2 separate regions of the Homo sapiens genome follow, and region 2 is linked to region 1. Evidence: fine-mapped expression QTL. Tissue or cell type: whole blood. Region 1 holds a variant in brackets; the other region holds the start of a gene. All regions are shown on one strand. Distances are from middle to middle.

Region 1 (8,000 bases):
CCCAGCACCAGGGGGCAGCAGACACGCGTCCCGCCGAGCACAGCTGCCCACCGCGCCGCCTACCTTCCCTGCGGGCCTCCCGCTCCTTGCGCCGCTCCTCTGCCCGCCGCTCGCGCTCCTTCTGCTCCCGCTGCTCCTTCTGCTGCTCCCGCATCTTGCGCTCCCGCTCCCGCTTCCTTTCTAACTGCTCCAAGCGGTCCCTGAAGAGGCACACGCCATCATTCCCCCTAAACAGAAGCTTGCTTATCGCGTTTTTGTCCACATTTGTAAACTGGCTTTCTACGTAATTCAATCCGTGAAGTTTTTTTTTCATTTTTTTATTTTATTTTCTTTGAGACGGAGTCTTCATCTGTCCCCCAGGCTGGAGTGCGGTGGCGCGATCTCGGCTCACTGCAACCTCCGCCTCCCGGGTTCGAGCGATTCTCCTGCCTCAGCCTCCCGAGTAGCTGGGATTACAGGCGTGCGCCCTGTACTCCCAGCTAATTTTTGTATTTTTAGTAGAGACGAGGGTTTCACCATGTTAGCCAGGATGGTCTCAATCTCCTGACCTCGTGATCCGCCTGCCTCCGCTTTTCAAAGTGCTGGGTTTACAGGCCCGAGCCACCGTGCCCAGCTGCCATTTCCAATTCTAATTAATAAATGATCCATTTCTTTCCATTCGATCGGTGTTTGCTTCATGGATTTTGGGCTCTGTGGTTAGATGCATTCACACGTATCATTGCTGTATCTTCCTGCTGTATTGGCCTGTTTCTGGCTGTGAAGTCCTTGCTCCTTCTTGTTTCTAGCTTTTTTTTGAGACAGGGTCTTGGTTTGTCACCCAGGCTGGAGTGCAGTGGCGCAATCTCGGCTCACTGCAACCTCCATCTCACGAGTTCAAGTGATTCTCATACCTGAGCCTCCCGAGTAGCTGGGATTACAGGTGTGCGCCACCACACCCAGGTGATTTTTGTAGAGACAGGGTTTCACCATGTTGGCCAGGCTGGTTTCTAATATTTCTTAACATCTGTTTTGTCTGGTATGAGTACAGCCATTCAAGCTCTCCTATGACAGCTGATGTTTGTACGCTGCGTCTTTTCCTGTTCTCTAGCAGACAGCATACAGTTAGATCTTGTTTTTCTATCTGATAATCTGCCCTGTCTGTTTGGGGCACAGAGACCTTTCACATGTCATATAATTACACGTACAGTTGGATTTACTTTCCTTGCTTTGTTGTGTCTTTTTTATTCTTCCCTTTTTGATTTTAAATTACATATGTTTAGCATACCATTTTAATTTATTTGTACTTTTTAAAACACTAAGAAAACAACTTTCTTAGTGGTTGCTCTAGGGATCACCGTATGCCTCATGATACTAGCTCAAGTCCAGTACAATATAAAACTGTTGTAACACAGCTTTATTCCCTGTCTTCTTTGTGCAGTCCATTTATGCCACATACCATGACAACAGTGTAATTATTTTATACAATCGTAGTTCCAGTAAAACCTAAGATGTGAGGAGAGATAGTTACAGGATATTGACGTCAACCTACACTTGCTATCTGCAGTGCCTGTCCTTCCTTCCTGAGGATTCAAGTTACCGTCTGGTGTCATTTCTATTCAACTTGAAGGTCTTCCTTTAGTATTTCCTTTAAGGCAGGTTTCGCCAACAATGAATCCCACCAGTCTCTGCTTCTCAGGGAATGTCGTTCGTTCCCTTTCACTTGTGTAGAACGGTTTTGATTCCTGGCTGATGGTTCTTCTCTCTGAGCAGCTTGAGTATGCCACTCCACTGCCTTCTGGCCTCCATTGTTTCTAAGAAGTCAGTGGCTGGCGGTATTGAAGCTCCCCTTTCATGGGATGGGTCATTCTTCTCTGAGGCCTTTCAACATTTTCTCTTTGGCCTTTGCCAGTTTGACTATGATGTGACTTTGCATTTATTCTAGTTCAAACTTCCTGTGCTCTTGAATGTGCATATTTTTTAATTAAAATTTGGAAAGTTTTTAACCATTATTGTAACAAATATCTTTCCTCTCTCCTGGAACCCCCATTCGACGTGCTTTGGTACAGCAGATGTTGTACCACGGGTTTCTGAGGCTCTGTGCATTTTTCTTGTTTTTTTCTCTCTGTTCTTCAGAATGGATAATTTCTACTGCTCCATCCACAAGTTGTTTCCAAGCCTTTACTAAATTCAACATCTGGACACTCAGACAGTTTTTACTGATGATGTTCTTCCTCAGTATGGGTCACACTGTCATACTTCTTTGTATTTTAGATAATACATTTGTAGCAATTCTGGATTCTAAGTTTTCCCTTTCGTTGTTACCACCGAGGCCTGTCTGGTTGTCCGTGAAATCCATCTCCCTCACAGCTCGTGGCCACCCCGTTCCTTCCCACATGCCTATTTTAATTTTCAACCTTGGCTTCCTAGGGGTCACCACCATGGCTGCACAGCTTAGCAATTAGCCAGCACTGGAAAAAGGCTGGGCTCAAATACCTCGAGCACAGTAAGGCTTCCTTGGCCCACGGCTGTGTGTGGACAGGGAGCACACTGAACGTTCACGCGTCATTCGCATCTGTGGCGGCTTCTATTTTCTGCCAGGTCCTTTCACGCAGCTGCATCCTCAGGGCTGGTCACAAGTGGGTGGCGGCTCGAGCTCTCTCCAGTCTCTGCTGCACGTCTTTGGCGAGATCACAGCTGCTCCCAACCACACTGTACTTCATTCTAGCAGACCTCTTGGCCTTTTCTTCCTCCCTCCACTGAGGATGCTGGTGGGCAAGGCCACTGCCCACTGCTCTAAACGGAGTAACCCCTTCCAAGGCAGCAAGGAAACTGCAGGTCCTGCAGCTGCCCTGTCCCAGTGGAACCTCCGTGCTTCCCAAGTGCAGAGTGGAAGCAGTAAAGGGAGCAGCTCTCAGGCCAGAAGGTCAGATTCTTACTGCTTTCACCCACAGCTCAGCAGTTTTCCAAGCATCAGTGCTTCTCAGATTATCCTTATCAGTTTCCTTTTTGTCAGAGACAAGGTCTCCCTACGTTGCCCAGGCTGGCGTCATGCGGTCCTCTGGCCTTAGCCTCCCACGTAGCATATGCTACCATACCCAGTTCTGGATTGGCTGATCTGAATCGGCCCTACCCAGAAGTCTGCCCCCAACAATTTTTGCTCATTCACTCTCCTGTCTTTACCTTCTGGGAAATCAATATGACAGCCCAAATTTCATCTACCAACCTCCACTTCTATCCCAAGCTGTACTCTCGTGGGACAAGACACACTCAATGTCTGGCACAGGGTGTGGCATACATGAATGTTTCACACACTAACAGGAACTAGGCCAACTGAAACCTTGCTCACCCCGCAGCGGTCTCGGACCTTGACCCCTGGGCCTCAGTGTCTCCCACACCCTTCGGCATCAACAAGAACCAGCGCCCTCTCATCATCTTTACATGCTGTGTACCCAGCCCTGGCTGCTGGCAAACATCGCTGCCCTTCCGCTTCAGACTCCTCTCTTCCTGGAGCAGCTTGCAAGCTTTCTGTGGACTCACTCTGAAGGCGGAGATGGGCCTGCTCCCACCTGGCCTACAGCCTTTTTCCTGGTTCACGGAACAGATCTGGGGCTACACCGATGTTCTTTCTTGGGAATCTGGCTCATAAAGGGGAACGAATATATAAACTAATGGCCAGGAGTCCTGGGAGTCCAGG[G/A]TCCCGAATTCCAGACTGTTTCAAGGTTTTTAGGATCTCCCTTCTCCTTTTTTTGAGACAGTCTCACTCTGTCAACCAGGCTGGAGTGCAATAGCATGGTCATAGCTTACTGCAGCCTTGACCTCCAGGCTCAAGGGATCCAACCACCTCAGCCTCCTAAAGTGCTAGGATTACAGGCATGAGCCACCGCGCCCGGCCGGACATGCAGATTTCTGATCCCTTCATTGTCTTCCCTCAATCAAATCACACCCGTTCTTACTTCCAGATGCAGTGAAAACTCACTCCCTCAGGACAGTTCTCTTGGTCAGCCTCGTCCAGCGTTCACTGTGCTGTTTCCATGTCTACCACTTCTGCACCAAATGTGACTTCTTCTTTTTTTTTTGAGACGGAGTCTCGCTCTGTCGCCCAGGCTGGAGTGCAGTGGCGGGATCTCAGCTCAATGCAAGCTCCACCTTCCGGGTTCACGCCATTCTCCTGCCTCAGCCTCCCAAGTAGCTGGGACTACAGGTGCCCGCCACCATGCCCAGCTAATTTTTTGTATTTTTTTAGTAGAGACGGGGTTTCACCATGTCAGCCAGGATGGTCTCCATCTCCTCACCTCATGATCCGCCCACCTCGGCCTCCCAAAGTGCTGGGATTACAGGCGTGAGCCACCACACCTGGCTCAGATGTGACTTCTATTGCCAAATTCTTCTTCATTTCTAGGATGGGACACACTACCACAGCCCTTTTATAAAGTCCTCAACTGACCCAGCCGACTCACCTTTCTCTCCTGGAATGCTCCCTTGCCATCTCCCTTCTCTTCTGTCTTTCCCATTCCCGGCGAGCTTTATCCTGTTCTTCTCGATGCCGTTTCCGACGTTCGTGCTCTCTTTCTTTTTCTTTCACTCTAGCATGCTTCCCTAATGAGAAATAAAGTGTCATGCAAAGAAACCTCACTTCAAAAATTTCACATGAAGCCGGGCACGGAGGCTTATGCCTGTAATCCTAGCACTTTGGGAGGCTGAGGCGGGCGGATCACCTGAGGTCAGGAGTTCAAGGCCATCCTGGCCAACATGGTGAAACCCCGTCTCTACTAAAAATACAAAAATTAGCTGGGCGTGGTGGCAGGCACCTGTAATCCCAGCTACTAAGCGAGGCTGAGGCAGAAGAATTGCTTGAACCCGGGAGGCGGAGGTTGCAGTGAGCCGAGATCACGCCACTGCACTACAGCCTGGGCAAAAAAAAAAAAAAAACCCACGTGAAACTGAAATTAAGACCGGGCGCGGTGGCTCACGCCTGTAATTCCAGCACTCTGGGAGGCCGAGGTGGGCGGATCACAAGGTCAGATCGGGACCATCCTGGCTAACACGGTGAAACCCCATCTCTACTAAAAATACAAAAAATTAGCTGGGTGTGGTGGCGGGCACCTGTAGTCCCAGCTACTCGGGAGGCTGAGGCGGGAGAATAGCGTGAACCCAGGAGATGGAATTTGCAGTGAGCTGAGATTGCGCCACTGTACTCCAGCCTGGGTGACAAGCAAGACTCCGTCCCAAAAAAAAAAAAAAAAGAAATTAAATCAAGAACAGTAAATATTTAAATAAATATTTAAATAATGATGTTAACGTTAAGTAATCCTAATTTTTCTTTTTTTTCTTTTTTTTTTTTGGAGATGGAGTCTTGCTCTGTCGCCCAGGCTGGAGTGCAGTGGCGCAATCTCGGCTCACTGCAAGCTCCGCCTCCCGTGTTCACACCATTCTCCTGCCTCAGCCTCCCGAGTAGCTGGTACTACAGGCGCCTGCCACCACGCCCGGCTAATTTTTTGTCTTTTTAGTAGAGACGGGGTTCCACCATGTTAGCCAGGATGGTCTTGATGTTCTGACCTCGTGATCTGCCGGCCTCGGCCTCCCAAAGTGTGGGGATTACAGTTGTGAGCCACCGCGCCCGGCCTTTTTTTTTTTTTTTTTTTTTTTTAAAGAGACAGGGTCTCGCTATATTGGCCAGGCTGGTCTTGAACTCCCGGACTCAATTGATCCTCCAAAGTGCTGGGATTACAGGCCTGGGCCACTGCACCCAGCCGAATAATCATGATTTTATGTTAAATAAAAAACTTTGAAAATAAAAAACTATCTGCAGTAAGCGTCTAATTATGAAGAAAGAAGAAAAAAGAAAAACAATTCTGCTATCACAGAAGAGCAGAATTGTAATATTCGTCTTTTAAAACTTTTCCATACTGAATAAACTATAATTATCAGTTTTATAATACAAAAATCACTCTTCACAAAGACTACAGAACAAAGCTTTGCTATCAGTGGGCTTCTCCACTGTGCAATGAAGCCACATTAATTAATCAAGTGTATTTATAATCATGACATTTCAATCGGGCTCCAGGTCCAATTTTCCTAACACCCGTAAGAACCTCCTGATGTTGGTACGAGATCAAACTGCTCAAGCCAAACCCATTCTTTGGACTTGAGCAAATACCCATTTTGGGGTGTGTTTTTCTCCTATACTTGTTGAATTCAGGTCATTTTAAATGTAAACAAACTGCTTCCAAACAATATAATGGGGGAGAGAAAACCCCAGAGGAAAAATGGACTAGCCATTCTGAATGGTCTGTGACACACGCACGCTTTCAGCTAGAGTTTGCTCTCTCTGGTTTTCGGTCTGTGATACACGCATGCTTTCAGCTGGAGTTTGCTCTCTGTAGCCCCTCTGAACGGTCTGTGACACACGCATGCTTTCAGCTAGAGTACTCTATAGCCCCTCTGAATGGTCTGTGACACATGCACGCTTTCAGCTAGAGTACTCTCTCTATAGCCCTTCTGAATGGTCTGTGACACACGCATGCTTTCAGCTGGAGTTTGCTCTCTCTGGTTTTCGGTCTGGGACACATGCATGCTTTTAGCTAGAGTTTGCTCTGTATAGCCCTTCTGAACGGTCTGTGACACACGCATGCTTTCAGCTGGAGTTTGCTCTCTATAGCCCCTCTGAATGGTCTGTGACACACGCATGCTTTCAGATAGAGTATTCTCTCTATAGCCCTTCTGAATGGTCTGTAACACACGCACGCTTTCAGCTAGAGTTTGCTCTCTCTGGTTTTTGGTCTGTGACACACGCATGCTTTTAGCTAGAGTTTGCTCTGTATAGCCCTTCTGAATGGTCTGTGACACATGCATGCTTTCAGCTAGAGTTTGCTCTCTCTGGTTTTTAGTCTGTGACACACACATGCTTTTAGCTAGAGTTTGCTCTGTATAGCCCTTCTGAATGGTCTGTGACACACGCGTGCTTTCAGCTAGAGTTTGCTCTCTCTGGTTTTTGGTCTGTGACACACGCATGCTTTTAGTTAGTTTGCTCTCATAGCCCTTCTGAACGGTCTGTGACACATGCATGCTTTCAGCTATTCTCTCTATAGCCATTCTGAATGGTCTGTGACACACGCACGCTTTCAGCTAGAGTTTGCTCTTTCTGGTTTTCGGTCTGTGACACACGCATGCTTTCAGCTAGAGTTTGCTCTCTCTGGTTTTCGGTCTGTGACGCACGCATGCTTTTAGCTAGAGTATTCTCTCTATAGCCATTCTGAACGGTCTGTGACACACGTATGCTTTCAGCTAGAGTTTGCTTTCTCTGGTTTTTCAGTGGTGCTCTGGGGAAGGCAGAAGAGTAGGAACAGGAAAGAAACCACACTTGAACATGATGTCAAAGAAAGTAAATGCTTCTGTACCCCCTTCTGCTGAATGGCTACGATGCCTACGTTTCTCTTTTCTCTTTTCATCTTTTCTGTGATGAGCTTTTTCTTTCCGAGACATTTGCTGGGGTGGTTTGATGGCCAAAGAATCATCTTCTTCTCCTCTGAAATAAAACACAACAGCACTGCATCATGCTTGAGAAAGTGCAAAGAAGCATCAGGCTATTATAAGGTTTCTTCAACCCAGAAAAATGCATGATTCAGACAGGAACAAAGCTGAAACATCATTTAAAAAATTACATTAATTCTCCAACTTTAGGCATCTTTTTTTTCTTTTTTTCTTTTTTTTAGACAGTCTCGCTCTGTTGCCCGGGCTATAGTGGCACGATCTCGGCTCACTGCAATCTCCACCCTCCGGGTTCATGCCATTCTCTTGCCTCAGCCTCCCGAGTAGCTGGGACTACAGGCGCCCGCCGCCACGCTGGCTAATTTTTGTATTTTTAGTAGAGACGGGGTTTTACCATGTTAGCCAGGATGGTCTTGGTCTCCTGACCTCATGATCCGCCCACCTCGGTCTCCCAAAGTGCTGGGATTACAGGCGTGAGCCACTGCGCCCGGCCTGTATTTATTTTTTTGAGACGGAGTCTCGCTCTGTTGCCC
Region 2 (8,000 bases), 33 kb before region 1:
GTCCCCTTGGTCAAAAGGGAATCTGTTCAGTTGGTGGAGGGCTGGCTGGGTGTGGTGGCTCACATCCCAGCACTTTTGTTTTTTCTTTTTCTTTTCTTTTTTTTTTTTTGTTTTTTTTGTTTTTGAGACGGAGTCTCACTCTGTCACCCAGGCTGGAGTGCAGTGGCCAGATCTTGGCTCACTGCAACCTCTGCCTCCTGGGTTCAAGCAATTCTCCCACCTCAGCCTCCCAAGTAGCTGGGACTACAGGCGAGCACCACCAAGCCCGGCTAATTTTTGTATTTTTAGTAGAGATGGGGTTTTGCCATGTTGGCAAGGCTGGTCTCCAACTCCTGGCCACAGGTGATCCTCCCACCTTGGCCTCACAAAGTGTTGGGATTACAGGCGTGAGCCACTGTGCCTGGCTGGTTTTTTTTCTTTTTTTTTTTTTTTGAGACAGAGTCTTCCTCTGTCACCAGGCTGGCGTACGGTGGCATGATCTTGGCTCACTGTAACCTCCGATTCCTGGGTTCAAGCCATTCTCCTGGCTCAGCCTCCCAAGTAGCTGGGATTACAGGTGCCCACCACCACACCCAGCTAATTTTTGTATTTTTAGTAGAGACGGGGTTTCACCATGTTGGCCAGGCTGGTCTCGATCTTATGACCTCATGATCTGCCTGCCTTGGCCTCCCAAAGTGCTGGGATTGCAGGCATGAGCCACCGCGTCTGGCTTTTTTTTTTTTTTTTTTTGAGACGGATTCTTGCTCTGTTCCCCAGGCTGGAGTGCAGTGTCACGATCTCAGCTCACTGCAACCTCCACCTCCTGGGCTCAAGCAATTCTCCTGCCTCAGCCTCCCAAGTAGCTGGGACTACAGGCGTGCACCACCATGCCTGGCTAATATTTTTTTTTTTTGTATTTTTGTATTTTTAGTAGAGACAGGGCTTCACCATGTTGGTCAGGTTGGTCATGAACTCCTGACCTCAAGTGATCTGCCCTCCTCAGCCTCCCAAACTGCTGGGATTACAGGCGTGAAGCCATCGCACCCAGCCAATCCCAGCACTTCAGAAGGCAGAGGTGAGCAAACAGCATAGCCCAGGAGTTTGAGACCAGCCTGGGCAACATGGTGACACCCTGTCTCTACTAAAAATTTAAAAATAACCGGCATGGTGGTGCATGTCTGTGGTCCTAGCTACTCAGGAGGCTGAGGTGGGAGGATCACTTGAATCCAGGAAGCAGAGGCTGCAGTCAACCAAGATAGTGCCACTGCACTCCAGCCTGGGCAACAGAGCAAGACCCTGTCTCAAATACAAAACAAAACAAAAAACAGTTGGTAGAGAGCTTAGGATTTTATTTTTCGTTTACACAGGGAATCCAAGAAAGGAGACAGACAAAGTGAGTCTCAAGGATGAGAGCAGAGAAAAGCTCGAGATAAGAGCTGTGCAGCCGGGTCAGGAAGTGATCGGTCTAGGTCGGAACAGGAGAATCAGTTAGACACAACGGATGTGTTTGAGCCTTTGGAAAACGGTATCGTTAGGCATGTGGCGAAAACGTTGGGGTACTTGAAAAAAAGGCTGGCCATGGGTTAGTAAAAAGCTAGATATGTGAAAATATTAGGTAATTATTAACTCAAAAGAAAAAAAAAGATTGTACAGGAATTGTGGCATGGTTTTATACTGTAGCAGTGAACAGCAGGTACTCAATCATGAAGAGCTAAGCCTGATTTCATCACGACAGCTGTGAAAGTTGCAGGTACCAAAATGGAACTACTTCCACCAATCCCTAAACAAATGGAGTCGGGAGGCCACGAAGGGGGAGCTCTCATGCAGGAATACCTGCAGCAGGCCTCCTCACAAGACGCTCCTGCACGTCCTGCACGTTTGCCTGTAACCGGACTTACTGCAGGGAAATTCCTCAGGACTGCAGTATTCTAGATAAGCAGCTTGCACAAGGACGTCGGCCTGGTAAGGCTCTCTCCAACAACAAGCTAACGCCCACTCCTGCAGCAAGCGCCCACAGCCAGTGGTTTTTGTTACAAAACAACTTTTGTGAGCTCATCTGTATTTTCCCCTTCGCCCGGCCCTCTCAGATAGGCCTATGATCTGTCATGGCACGAACAGCCTAGGCTGCAACCCCCTGCGATTCCCAGATTAACTCACTTGTCCTGGAGAGCCTGCCTCTGGGTTTCCTTTCAGGTTGACAGTTTGGGAGCTAACAGGACCACGTGAGGGGTGCAGCGGGGAAGATCAGCCAGGTTCTCAGGGACCTTCTCCGGAAGTACGCAATGTCTACAATTAAGAAATGAGAGGCCGGGCGCGGTGGCTCACGCCTATAATCCCAGCACGTTGGGAGCCCTAGGAGGGCAGATCACGAGGTCAGGAGTTCGAAATCAGCCTGGCCAAAATGGTGAAACCCCGTCTTGACTAAAAATGCAAAAATTAGCTGTGCGTGGTAGCGCATGCCTGTAGTCCCAGCTGCTCGGGAGGCTGAAGCAAGAGAATAGTTTAAGCCCTGGAGGCGGAGGTTGCAATGAGCCGAGATCGCGCCATTGCACTCCAGCCTGGGCGACAGGGCGAGGCTCCGTCTCCAAAAAAAAAAAAAGAAAGAAAGAAAGAAATGAGAAACTAGCAGTGCATTGTTCAGAAACGCGGAGACTTCTCTCAGGAGAAAGCGAGAAGCAAGCGTCCAACTCTGGGGTGCAGAACCCGGGGCGGGAGGACGGGCCCGGACTGCCGTTTCTCGCTGTGTCCAGGTCTGCGTGACTCAAAACCCCGGATAGGGCCCGCACTGGTGGAGTCGGAAAGAGGTGGCTGCGGCGCGGCAAGTGCCGCCAGTGCCAGCGAGCGCGACGTCGCTCCCAAGCCCCCGTCTCTATGGCAACCGAGTGCGTCTCTAGGACCGCCACTGCGCAGGCGCCCGGAGGCTAAGCCGCTCGGAACCTAGCTGCGCCACGCAGGGTAGGCGACGCAGACGCTCCCGCGTGACGCACTTCCGGTGCTTGCCCTGCCCATCCCCGTGGCGGGGGCGTGGCCATGGCGGGGGCGCTCCGGCGGGGGCGGGCCCTGGGCTCCCGCCCTTCGGGTCCCACAGTTTCCAGCCGCCGCTCTCCTCAGTGCCCGGTGGCCCAGGAGGGCCTGGGAGCCCGAAGCCGTCCCCGAGTCGCTCCTAGGTCACTGGCGCGATGCGGGCCGTCCTCTCGGCTGATGGTGCGTGCGGGCGCGGATCTCCTCCCCTGGTCCTCCGCACCGTCCCCGAGTCGTTCTCCGCTCTGGCAGAACGCGAGCGCCGTCCGGTTCCCGCTCCCGCTGGCCCAGCAGCCCCGGGCTGGACTCGGCGTAGGGTCCGCACGGGATGGGCTGGGGCTGCGCGCGCAGCGCCGCCGCGGGGCCTCCTGGGAGTTGTGGTCCGGCCACCCGCGCGGGACTCCAGCTCCCGGCAGGCCTCGCGCGGCCCGGGGCCAGCGGCGCTGGGGTCGGCGCTGGGGTCGTCGTCCGGGCCGGGTGGGCTGCGGCGCGCGGCAGGCGCTCTGGCCTGGCCTGGCCGCCGCTGAGCAGTCGGGGCCGGTGGGTGGCCTCGAACGCCGGGACAGACCGACAGACGGACTGGCCGGCGGTCCCGCGCCCCCGAGCGGAGCGGGCGGGACGGAAACGTCCGGGCAAGTTGGGGTCGGCAGGTACTGCGCGGCCCTGGCAAGGTCTGGCAGCGGACAGGGCCGGGCGGCCTCCGCGAGCCACGGGCACGAATGACAGGGGGCGGGGCGCGCTCCGGGTGGGGGTGCCCGCCGTGCCCGCCCCTGGCCCGCCCGTTCCCCTGCGCCGGCGCCCGTGCGCGTCCCGGAGCCTCCTGACGTCTGCGAGCCGCGGCCGCCAGACCCCGGGCGCACGCAATTACGGGCCCGGCGCTGGCGGCTCCTGCGCGCTCAGACCCCAGGGAGCCCATCCGGGCAGGCGGCGGCCCTGAGTGTCGCGGCCGTGGGCCCGAGTGGACCTGGAGCCGGCGGGCAGCCCCGGGGGCAGACAGGCGACCGAGCCGCGGGTCGAGGTGCTAACTGTGCATCTTGGCATCTCCCCTCGGCCACAGGGTTGGAAGCCCAGCGAGGCTAGAGGCCAGTCCCAAAGTTTCCAGGCATCAGGGCTGCAGCCCAGGAGCCTCAAGGCGGCCCGGCGGGCGACTGGACGGCCGGACAGGTGAGCTCTTGATCGTCCGCGGCCTGATAGTTTGCACTTGGCTCTCCCACTTTGGGGCTCCGTGGAAGCCACGTCAGAGAGGCTGTGTTTGTGTCTGAGCATGCATGCGAGTGGAGGGGAGTGGTGAGTAATCCCGCGTCTCCTCTCTGAGTTCGGAACCCATGGAGGAAGAAAGCAGAGGTGCCAGACAGGCCTCTGATAGGCACCTGCAGGATTGGGGCAGAGCGGCCGCAGCGCAGGAGCGCCGGCAAGCCTGGCCCTTCCCGGGAGGCCCCCTTTGTCCGGTTCCACCCTGGCCTGTTGCCTCACATGCAACAAGTGTCTGAATGTGGCGCTCTCCTGGCCGAGGGCAGCCCTGGGCGGTGAGTGGGATGACACCCCAGCCTGCAGGGTGCCTGTAGGTCTCCACCCAGATGGGCAGGATTGGAGGTGGCCGCAGCGCTCGTGGGCTTTCCCTCAGCAGGTGTCTCCATGCTGGCCTCCCCGCCTCAGGGCTTCATCCCACTCCGTGGGCCTGATCTCCCTGGGGCACCTGGGATGTCCATCTGCGTTAGCTGGAGCTACTCCATGGCCTGTGGCGTGCCACACACAGCGGCATTTCGGTGTCATTAGGCACAGCTGGAGGTGCAAGGAGGAGGGCAGCCTCATGTCCAGTTCCATGTAACTTGCTTCTTCTGAATAAAGGCAATTTGCTAACTTTCTCGCTAAATAGGATTTGGTTTCTATGGCTTTTAAAGCTTCTCCGATAAAATACTTGCAATAAGGGAACTCTCTCCTCCTACACTCTCCTGACTGATGGTTCGGAAGTCCTCCTGCCCTCTGAGAGCTTGCAGTTTCTTGTGAAAAAGAGAAACTAAGCAGCAATAGAACAGACCCGGTGTCTGCTTGCGTGGTTAAGACGGTAAATGCTAAATGTGTGACACTGCCTTTAGAAACCATTTTCTCCAGCCTGGCTTGCTGGCTGCCCGTCTGGTTTGCTGTGTTGTGTCTCCAGTGGCTTTAGCTTCCAACAGGAAAGCCTGGTAGCCGAGCGAATCTGTGACCCAGGAAGTAGCAATTAAATGCCTGGGACGCTGCCTCGAGGCTGGTGTGTGCTCTGAGGTAAGTTCCGATTTGCCAAAGCACATCTGTCGATCTGTCGCCCGAGTCTTCACACCCTGACTGCCTCCATCATTTTAAACATCGGGAGCAGTTGCCTGCAGCGGGGTTCAGATGCCAGCCAGGGGCACAGCCTGTGAACTGTGGGTAGATGGCAAAGTCTAGCATTTCTGGCAAAGGAAAAAACATTTGGTAACTCTCTGAGTAAATTTCTGACTGAGATGAAGATACCCATTGTGGGGCAGCATCCTGAAGCGGAAGCCTGGGCTGTATGTTTCCAAGAGGAGGAGCAGGAGTGGCCACAGCCATGTACGCCACGATGTACACCAGGGGCTGCGTGGCCACAGCTCTGGTCTGCTGGTCTGCTCCCTGGAGCCCCTCCACCAGTGCTGGGCTGTGGCTGTGGCTGTCTCTGGTTTGTCTTTCTGGGAAACCTTGGCCAGGTTGGTGTGAGGGCAGGGCTAGCCTTGGACATCTGCACTTCCCATAGCAGCCTCTGGCCCAGAGCTCACCCGCTGTGGGCAGGTGATCAGGGTGATCAGGTCCCACGGGTCCCCTCCTCTGCACCTGGAGCCTTGTGGGTGTAGAACAGAAAAATAGGAGGGGGCAACCCAGAGGCCTCCTGCTCTCCAGGAAGGAATGGATGCTGGACAGGTCCAGGGTGGAGGCAGAGGGAGTGAGGGGCCCTTGGGGGAACATCTGTCCTAGAGGGCTTGATTTCCAGGCTGCCCACCCCACTCCTACCCCTAATCTGGTGTTCCTCACCTGCCTCCAGGAAGTCCTCACCTGAGGTCTGCAGCGGGTGTGCCAAGCGCCAGCCCCACATCACCTGCTCCCAGGCCTGCCCAGGGGATGGGTCCTGTGGCCAGTACCCTCGGGGTCAGCTTGACCCAGACCCAGCCCAGAACCTGTCCCATGGCCCCAGGAGGACAGGATGGTCAGGGAAGCCCAAGGGATGAGCCCTTTTGTCCACAAGCTTCCCTCTGACATGGGCAGGCTGCTTGTGCGACCCCACAGCCCCCACCTCTCATGAACAATGGGAATGGGGCAGGCCCCTCGATGCTGGGCTGGATCCTCCCGCCCCTAAGCAGGTGCACTCTGTCCCCTTTGAGAAGAGACCAAGGGATACAAGTGCTGGGTCCTGGCGGGGTGCCCCTCCTCCCTGCCTGTGGGGGTCTCATTACTGCCTCCTGCCCCCACCACAAACACCCCCTAGAGAGGCCTTCGGAGGCAGGTACTGAGCCCTGGGGCCAGGGTGCCAGGAGCCCAGTGGCAGGTCTTGGGTGACTGCTGGCCCTGGGGCAATGGTGAGAAAGCCAGGCAGGCAGCTGCAGGAAGGAGCTGAGGAGAAAGGCGGCAGAGCCTCAAAAGCTGCTGGCGGCCGGGCACAGTGGCTCACACCTGGAATCCCAGCACTTTGGGAGGCCGAGGCGGGCGGATCACGAGGTCAGGAGATCGAGACCATCCTGGCTAACACGGTGAAACCCCCGTCTCTACTAAAAAATAGAAAAAATGAGCCAGGTGTGGTGGCAGACGCCTGTAGTCCCAGCTACTCGGGAGGCTGAGGTAGGAGAATGGCGTGAACTTGGGAGGCGGAGCTTGCAGTGAGCTGAGATTGCGCCACTGCGCTCCAGCCTGGGCGACAGAGCGAGATTACGTCTCAAAAAAACCAAAACTGCTGGCCCCTCCAGAGGGTCCAGGATACTGAGCTCCTGAGCCTGGGATCCACGCGCATGTGGTCTGTCTGCACACTGGCACCGCAGAAGGGTTGGCAGGCGGGCAGGCATGGCTGGAGACCCCGCTCAGATGAGGCGGCCACTCCAGGGCAGTGCCATGCTGGACAGAAGGGACTGCCTTGGAAGTGGGACAGACCCCAGACCCTTGGGGTGGGGGCCCTGCAGGGGAGGCCTTGAGGAGGCGCCGGGTCTACAGGCCCCTGTGTGCTCACATCCCAGCCCCCGGGGAGAGGTGGGAGTGGGTGGGCGCACCCAGCTCCCCTGTCCAGGCTCGTCCCCCTTGTTGGGGCAGCCCTCAGCAAGTGGGGGGCTGGTTCCAGGCACAAGAAGTGAGGCCAGGGAGGAAGCCCTGCCTGTGTTCAGCCCAGTTGTGCCCCAACTCAGGTGGGCTTCCATGAGGGACAGCCTCTGGGAGGGTGGGGGTTTGTGGGCCAGGGCTGGAGAGCTGCCTGGCTGTGCTAAAAATACCGGGCATGCTGCAGACAGGTGCCAGTCTGGGGCACAGGCTACCCTGTCTCAGGCTGATGGCCTTGGCACTCCACCCCACTGCCCCTGTGACGCGGGGGCCGCCAAGGCTTGGTCTTGATTCCCAGAGGCCCTGCTGGTGACCTCCCCGACATCTCTGCCCTCTGCCCATCCCCCCAAGGGCAAGATTTGCCAAAGCACAGGACACATTGGCTCACACATGGGGCACCCTGCCCCTGTCTTTTTGGAAAGGTCCAATGGCATATGGCCAGCGGGTCGGGCAGGTGTGGCCGCTGGCCTGGGCTAAGCTGGCTGTGGCTGAGAGTCTGGGCGCAGAGACAGAAGGCGCCCCCTGCTGCAGAAGGATCACAGTGTGGGCTCATGGCATTGGCTTTTTTGCGGTCCCAAGTCCTTCATCTCCATTGCCGGGCCCATCTCGGGGGTCGGCAGATGCGTGTCCCCTACTAGCAAAGACCTCCAGTCGGTTCTGCGGCTGCCTGTGATGAGCCCTGCTCTGGCTAAGTGGAGGTGTTTGGC

What was found. PIP is the estimated chance that this variant, and not a neighbour inherited with it, causes the effect.
Region 2: it holds the start of MIB2, and the variant in region 1 is fine-mapped to the expression of MIB2 in whole blood (INTERVAL, PIP above 0.99).

The regions. Positions count from the first base shown.
Region 1 is chr1:1,645,063-1,653,062 of GRCh38, forward strand. It overlaps CDK11B (cyclin dependent kinase 11B), which reads right to left. Exons shown (of 20, transcript NM_033486.3): 4 at 7,377-7,504; 5 at 4,437-4,575; 6 at 64-200. Among named protein-coding and RNA genes, the nearest start is that of CDK11B, 9.9 kb to the right of the region's middle. The variant G/A (reference allele first, on the strand shown) is at 3,674.
Region 2 is chr1:1,612,451-1,620,450 of GRCh38, forward strand. MIB2 (MIB E3 ubiquitin protein ligase 2) reads left to right here and starts at 3,050. Exons shown (of 20, transcript NM_001170687.4): 1 at 3,050-3,183; 2 at 4,058-4,164. RefSeq lists an enhancer at 2,545-2,714 and silencers at 2,815-3,864, 3,895-3,984.